Linked DNA regions of Homo sapiens. The protein of the gene in region 1 interacts with the protein of each later gene in a pairwise test. Each region holds a gene or a part of one and is shown on either strand. Other genes may lie near its edges.

The links. The genes of interacting proteins can lie anywhere in the genome.
Region 2: the proteins of CHD7 (region 1) and SMARCC2 interact in binary tests that used the Homo sapiens proteins (3 or more experiments, as listed by UniProt).

What each region holds. Positions count from the first base shown.
Region 1 is NC_000008.11:60,677,266-60,681,646, reverse strand, and holds the start of CHD7 (chromodomain-helicase-DNA-binding protein 7), read right to left. Parts: upstream 2,908-4,381; 5' UTR 2,565-2,907; intron 2,153-2,564; exon of another isoform or gene 1,856-2,152; intron 1,767-1,855; exon of another isoform or gene 1,409-1,766; intron 1-1,408. UniProt on the Homo sapiens protein: ATP-dependent chromatin-remodeling factor, slides nucleosomes along DNA; nucleosome sliding requires ATP. Probable transcription regulator. May be involved in the in 45S precursor rRNA production.
Region 2 is NC_000012.12:56,172,385-56,176,092, forward strand, and holds part of SMARCC2 (SWI/SNF complex subunit SMARCC2), read right to left. Parts: intron 2,381-3,708; coding exon 2,267-2,380; intron 1,466-2,266; coding exon 1,312-1,465; intron 646-1,311; coding exon 553-645; intron 321-552; coding exon 201-320; intron 107-200; coding exon 44-106; intron 1-43. UniProt on the Homo sapiens protein: Involved in transcriptional activation and repression of select genes by chromatin remodeling (alteration of DNA-nucleosome topology).

The DNA.
Region 1 (4,381 bases):
CCACTATTGGGCAAAATAAGAAAATTTAGCTTCTAAAATTTGCTGCTCAAGCCTTTACCCATTTCCAAATTATTTTACTATAACTTTTTTCTACAAGACAGATTTTTCAGGGAAAATAAACTTTTCCTGAGCAAACTGGAAGACATAAAATGTCTCCTACTTATCACCTAGAAAGGCAAACCAAGTCCTACTCCATGCCCCAAGCATCTAGCTTTCAGCCTCTTTATTATCATTGTCAATGAATGGGCCTCAGTCAAATGAAAGCTGCCATTTTAGGGTAAAGACTGGAGGGCTTCTGTTGTGCAACAGCAAGACAAAAACACTGCGCGACAGATGTACTCTGGGGGCTGGGAGAAGGATTCAACTTCGTAAAATCACTGCTCAAGTTATTTCTGAAATAGGAATTACCTTGTACTTAGACATTACTGCAATCTAAATATAATTATAACTGGGATAAATCAGGTAGCCATGCTGCTAAGGTCACAGTCACTAAGATATTTTTTGTCATCGTCAGACAAGATCAGTGAAGAAATAAAGACACGTATTTTGTTTCCTCTTCGATTACTACGTATACTGAGTACTCCCTCCCTTACCGAGAGAGAACTGGGGTGAAATAACACTTAACCCCTTAGAAAGGTATCGCCCACTGCAAAGACGGCTTAAATTAAAATTTTTAGAAAATAAAAAATCAGGGCCTCACAAAATCCTTTAAAAATAAATTAAGACATGTAATGTATTCCAGAAATTAAGCCCCCAAAAGGGACACTTTTTAAGATAAGTTATTTAAATCGATTGCTAGATAATATACAATGGGAAACTAAAAAGTATACTTAGCAAGTGGAGCGCTGGATAGTGTATCTAATTCTAGCAATTCAAAAGGAAACTCTCTCCATGTGGGTTGCTACTTTTCTTTTGTCCATTGTCTGTTCAGAAGAGGGGGAAAAAAACTAGTTTAAACCAAGGCGTGAGCAGTCTCTAAAAGTGACCTCCAGGAAAAGAGTCCGACCCATAGCAGGAGCACTCTCCGCGCCGCTCGCTTCACGGGGGCGCTCACAAAGCGGGCGGCCGGCCGGGAGTTTGGGGTGCGCTCCCACGGCTCCGGGCTCCTCGAGGCAGAGCCATCCGGAGAAAGGCGGCTCGGTAATGATGGCTGCTCGGGGCCGGCGGCTCCTTCCCCAGAGCCTCCCGACCAGCGCCCCCACCCCCGCCCGGGAGCCGCCGCCGCCGCCGCCCCCGCCCCCCCCCCCCGCGACCTCGACAGCCCCGCGCCGCCGCGCCCGCCCCGCACCGCAGCCCAGCCGGTGCCCGCGCCCCCGCCCGAGCCCCGCGCCCCCAGCGAGCCCAATCCCCGGTGCGAACCAAACAAACAACGCGTCCCCCACCGCCCTCCTTTCCTCTCCCCGCTGACCGCTTGGCCTCCAGCCACCTCGGCCGTTCACGCTCCAAGCCGCGGCTCTCTGCGAGGGCAGAGCGCACCCGGGTCACCTCGGGGGCCACCTGGTGACCACCCCCCACCGGCGCTGACCCCCGGCGGGTTGGGGGGCGGGGGAGCCGAGTTGCGTTGGAAGGTTAAAGTCGCTATTATGCAGCTGCCGCCGCCGGCGGCCCGGCCAGCTCGACAAGGTGGGGTCCCCTCCTCGCCGCGCCTCCCGGCGCTCGCCCCGGCCCCGCTCCCTTTCTTCTCCTCCTAGCGCACTTGGGAGCCGCCGGGGAGCCCCAGGAGCCCCCAACTCCGGGCTCGCAACTCCGCGCCCGCGACCGGCACTGGCTGAGCTCGGGACGCCTCCCGCGCCGCGTGTTCGCGCTGCCCCCGCCCCACGCGGCGCCCCGCGCACTTTCCCCGCCGCCGACCCACCTCGCTCGGTGGCGGTCCCCGCGCGGGCTGGCGCCGCCGCGCCGGGAGGAACGCACTTTGTTCGCGCCGGTGCGGCCGCAGCTCCCGGCGAGCGCGGCGTGGTCGGTCCGGAGCGGGGGGCGGGGGCGGGAGGCGGGGGTCGCCGCCGTCCCCGAGCCGCCGCCGCCGCTGCTCAGCCGCCCCGCGCCCGCGCGCCCATCGCCCGCTCGCACTTGAGTTGGAGCCCAACTTTTCCTCCTTCCTTTTTCTCTCGAATGGAGCCGGCAACTCGTGCTCGGCGCCGGCGGGAGGAAACGCGCTCGCGCTCCCCCGCGCGCAGACACGCTCCCTCCTGTCCCCCGTACCCCCCCCCCACGCCGGCAGCACAACAAAAAGCCATTTACATGCGAGGAAGTGACCCTCGGCCGCACCGCGCGCCCCCGCCGCCGCCGGCCCGGCGGACGCAGGCAAAAGTTGGGGCGCCGGGCGGCGCTCGGGGCGCGGGTTCGGGCCCCGCGGGCGGCGACGCCGGCGACACTACGCGGGCGGCGCTGCGCTCCTGCGCTGGCCCCGGCCCCCTCCCGCCCTCGCCCCTCGCCCCTCGCCCCGCACACGCCCAACTCCTCGCTCCCAACTCCTAGCGCGGCCCCGGCCCCGGCCCGGAGCGATTTCCTGCCGCCGCCGCCGCCGCCGCCCCTCCCGGGGGCGCCGGGCGAACTCTCGCGCTCACCGGGTCGGTCGGGCTCCTCCGCTGCCTAGTGCCGAGGGGAAAACAAAACGCAGAGCGGGCTCCGGAGTTGGCTCGGCAGCTGCGGCCAGGGGGCTGAATCCACGGGCACGGAGTTGGCCGGGGGCGAACGGGTCTCTGGTGAGTTTCAGGGTGTCCGGGTCCCCGGGCCGCCTCCTCCGCGGCGCTCCTTTGTGTAATTTCACTCGATTCAAGTTTAATCCGATAGTTCCCGAGCACGAGCGCGTCCGCACCACCACGACTCAACCCCCGCGCCGCCGCCGCCGCCGCCGCTGCCGCCGCCGCCGCCGCCGCCGCCGCGGCCCCAGCACGCCAGCGCCTGCGCGCGTCCGGCACGCCGCGCGCACCCGAAGCCGCGGGGCCGCGCGCGCCCGCCGCCAGCTCCCTCCGGGCCGCGCCGCGCCCGCGCCCGCGCCCGCGCGCCGCCACCTGACGTCAGGCGCGCCTGGCATAATTTATGCAAGAATTCGGCCGGGGTGGCGGAGGCCGAGGGAGAGGCCGAGAGAAAAGGGGCGGCGCGGAGCTGCTGGGCCGCGGGCCGCGGGCCGCAAGGGCGGGCCGGGCGCCACTTCCCGTCCCCTGGCGGGCGCCGGCGCTTCAGGCGGGTCTCCCCGCCGGCCGGTGCGCTGCTGCCGCGGAGTCTTCCTTGCCCGGCTGCACGGAGCGCTCGGCCGCTGCGCCCGGGCGCGGACTGGAGGGGCTGCTGCCACGTCTCCCGCGCGGCACCTTCCCGGAGCCGGGTGCGCCGCCCCGGGGCAGGAAGCGGGGCTCCGGGAGGGCTGCGACCCTCCTGGCTGCCGCGAAGGGTTTCCGACGCTGCGCGGCCGGCGGCGGCCGGGGGTGACTGGCAGTCTCTGCAGTAATTATCCTTCAACTTGAAATTATTTTCCCACATGAAATTATTCGGAAGGGACATGTTCCATTCCAGATGGGTTCGTGCCTGCTTCTCCACATCGCTTTTCCCACCTCTTCGTGGATAGGACACCGGATCCACTACTTAATCAAAAAGTTTAACTAGATGGCATTGATTTTGTCGAATTTGTTACCATACCAAAAAAGAGAGAGAAGGCAGAGAGCTCAATGATTATGAAACAAAGAAATAGGATGTATGCCCATTATTAAACGTGTCGGGACTAGAATGTTTTACTCATTCTTTGGCCAAAATGGCACTTGTATCTGATTGCATAGTCTTAAAAATCCGAGCCTCTTATTCCATTTCTCTTCCCGGTACAAAATGAATGTTAAACCTGAAGAAAAAAAACTTTTTTTTACTAATTTTTATTTTAGGAAATAGATCTACAAACATGGATTAAGCCTCTTCTATCTGCAAAATACGGAGCAATTATAATGTGTTTAAACCATCAATTGTAAACTTTAAGATAATTTTATTAGGTTAAAGATTGCACTTATTTTAAAATCAGGAAAGGAACTCATATCAACCAAAGATTGCCCTATGGCAGGTACAGACTGACTGGTTATTACTGGACTCCAAAATAAACTGAGAAAATAGCAAAACTATGTAAAATGTACTAATCTCACTCACTGATGGTTACACTACCTGTAGTGCTAAGCCTGTAATCACAATATTGTTATTTGGACAAAAGATTAATCAAAACTATCTCATTAAGTAACTACTGCAACTATTCAATAAGTTTGATTATCCTAGACTTAATCACTAAGACATTGATTTTCTGATTTTAGTAATAATTCTATAAATATATCACATTATATTGTGGTTTGTTAAATGCACTGCTTTTAGCTTGCTTTCATCATGTATTTGAGTTTTGTTCTAAAAGAAA
Region 2 (3,708 bases), on another chromosome or scaffold:
TTCTGTTTTCAGAGAAAAACTCTCTTTTCTTTGCCCCAATTACCTCCAGGAGAAGCAGGGTTTCCTGTTCTGTCCACTCACGAGTGGCACTGGCTGCAGCCTTGCTCTGCAGGGGAAACACAGGCAGGTGAGAAGAAAGGAGCCTGTGACCTCTGAGGAGCGAACATTCTCTACCCCTAGAGTCGGCCCGCACCTCCTACCTTGGAGGGAACATTCTTTTTTGTGTACATGTCTGTGCGCAGCCCAAAGTTTTGCATGTCTGTTGGTTTCTCTTTGCCTTTGTCAGGAAAGTTGAGCATTTGTTGGGAAGCAGAGGTCTGCTATTTGTGGAGGGAAAGAAACAGGTGAGTACAAGTGACCACCGGGAGCCAGGGGCTGACAGAGAGAAAAAACAGACAGAAGGAGCTTCTTTCCCAAAGCCAGGGACACCCCTGGGTGGGACTTCCTCCCTTACTGCTGTAGTTCCTCTGCTCTCATGTCTCTTCTTCCCGGGCAGGGGCCCCCCAATAAAGGGGAAAATGAGCAGCCCAGCAGGGTCTGCACCCCACCTACCAGCTCTGGCTTGCCCTTAGCCGTCTCTGGCACCAGGTCATCCAGCTCTTTGCCCTTTCGCCCAGCCTTGGTATCAGCATCAACCTGGCGGCCCTGGGGGACAGAGCTTGGCGTCATGGAGGCTGGGCAGGAAATGACCAGGCCAAGGCCCTGGAGGCCTCAAGACCATATGCTGGGCGGCCCACAAGCTCTGGGGGCACTCATGCCACTGTTCCATGTTCCCTTCATGATTAATAAGACATGTCGTTGGCATGATATCCATACATATTCACATTATCTTTATAGGTTCTCTTAGGAGCTGGACAATTAGGTTCTAATCCTAGATTTGGTACTCTGTGACCTTGGGCAAGCCACATAACCTTCTTCCTAATTTTTGTAATGGATGAAGTGGAAATGGAAAAAAAAATGAAGATGATAATTATGAGGCAAAAATGAAAAAATGTGGCAAAGATGACAAAGTTTAAAAATTTCATGCAAGTTAATTTTAAGCCATTTTTCTCTATTGACTCCCCTACATTAGCCTGTCTACTCCTTGAGTAAAAGGATAATCTCTTCTCCCTCAGCAATTACAGCCTTAGGTACAAAGGCTGAGAGAGGATGCTAAACACATGGGGCTGATTCCCGTGACCCTTTGCATCCCATGGAAAAGGAAGAAGCCTCAAAACACTCCTGAACCATTACCCTAAAAACCAGAAAAAGAAAAGTTCAAAGAAGCCCAATCTTCCCAACCCGCCCCATCCCCATAGCACCTCACCCTACCTGAGGTGTCTTGGGCTGCAGAGGCACCAGCCCTGATGGTGTGTCAGCCAAGACATGGAAGTGAGAGGTAGGCGGAGGCCCCATTGGGGTTGGTCGACTCTCAGCATCCACCTGGTAGTTAATAAGACCCCACTGTTCTAGGAAGGCATGGACCCTGTGCAGAGAGAGGCAGAGACAGGGTCACACGGATAGCCAGAAAGGTGCACGAGGAAGAGGAAAAGTGGGGGGTAGAAGGGGCATAAACCCCCTCCCCACCCAACCCCGGCCTTTTCCTCTGTTCATTGTACTCCTTAAGAAATCTCACCTACTCCAGTTGTTCATTTATCACCTAAATGCCAGTGACACCCAAGTCTACATCTTCAGCCTGGGCCAATCTCTATATCTACCTACCTACCGAACATTTCTTCCTGAATAGCTAGTAAAACTGAACCAGTTTCTTTCTTTTTTTCCCTAAGAGAGACTGAAGTGCAGTGGTGTGATCACCGCTCACTGCAGCCTCCACCTCCAGGGCTCAGGGGATCCTCCCACCTCAGCCTCCTGAGTCACTAAGACCACAGGCACGTGCCACCATGCCTAGCTAATTTTTTTGCATTTTCTCTAGAGATGGGGTTTTGCCATTTTGTCCAGGCTGGTCTCGAACTTCTGGGCTCCAGCAATCCTCCCACCTTGGTCTCCCAAAATGTTTGGATTATAGGCATGAGCCACCACACCTGGCCTGAACCAGTATCTTTCAATTACAGACATGCTCCTTCTTTGTCCTATATTCTACACTTCAGAGAATGCCATTGCTAATCCCTCAAGTCATTCATTCCCCAAACCTGTACTTCACCTTTCTCTAGAGGTGCTTTTTTCTGTCTGCTCCTCTGTGTTCCTTGCTGGCATCTCTACTGTTGCCAAAACACATCCATAGGCAGGCATCCTCATGTACCCCCTTCCCCTCAGCCACAAGACCCACCTCATGATGGCACAGACATCACCCGCTAGGTTTCGGCGGCAGGCGGTAGAGGTAAGATACTCTTGGGGGTTCAGTCGGTAAGTGTCAATCATAAAGTTTCGATAGGCCAGGTAGCTTAGAAGAAAGAGAGAGAGAAACAAGAAGAAGAAAAATAAATGTTTGTTAAAGGGCTAAAGGAAAAAATGGTAAGAGAGCTAATGACTTCTCCTGCATGATAAAGATGGAAAAAAGTAGATTATTTGACTCTACATGCTGAGTGCCTGCTATGTGCTAGATGAAAGGGTTTCAAATATGTCTTACTTTTCCTTGATGGGGTTTTCTTTAAATGAATTATCTCCTTGGCTATACTTAGGGATATTTCATACAATTTTTTTTTTTGAGATGGAGTTTCCCTCTTGTTGCCCAGGCTGGAATGCAATGGCATGATCTTGGCTCATGGCAACTTCCGCCTCCTGGGTTCAAGAGATTCTCCTGCCTCAGCCTCCTCAGTAGCTCTGATTACAGGCATGTGCCACCACGGCCGGCTAATTTTGTATTTTTAGTAGAGACAGGGTTTCTCCATGTTGGTCAGGCTGGTCTCAAACTCCTGACCTCAGGTGAGCCTCCTGCCTCAGCCTCCCAAAGTGCTGGGATTACAGGCATGAGCCACTGCACCTAGCCATTTTATACAATTTTTAAACAAGGAATTAGAAGTTAAGAAAATACTCATTTCCAAACTCAGATGTTAAAAGGAAGTCCTTATTCATGCATATAGCTAGTCAGCATACCACGGTAAAAAACATATGTTTTGAAGTTGAAAAGATCTAAGTTCAAATCCCAGTTCTACCATGAGGACCTTGGCAATTTACTTCGAATTTTTAAACCTCAGTTTCCTCATTTGTAAAATGGAATGTCTGTTGAGAGGTCTATAAAGTACTAGTATAGTGCCTGGCGCATTGTAGGGGCTCAAAAAAATGGCAGCTATCATGTGGTACAGTGTAAAGTTTCAGATCATGGGCCAGATTAAAGGATTCAGATCCTGGTTTTATTTACTAGCTCTGTGACTTTATGCAGGTGACTTGACTCCTCTATACCCTATCTGTCAACTGAAGATGATATCTACCTCTAAGGTTGACGTAAAGATTAAATTACTCAATGTAGGTTGGACATTTAGTATAGTGCCTGGGAGATACTAAGCTCTCAATAGATGCAGGCAATTATCATCATTTACTATTTTTTTTTTTCTGAGATGGAGTTTCACTCTTGTTGCCCAGGCTGGAGTACAATGATGAGATCTTGGCTCACTGCAACCTCCACCTCCCGGGCTCAAGTGATTCTCCTGCCTCAGCCTCCCAAGTAGCTGGGATTACAGGTGCGTGCCTCCACACCCAGCTAATTTTTGTATTTTTAGTAGAGACGGGGTTTCACCATGTTGGCCTGGCTGGTCTCGAACTCCTGACCTC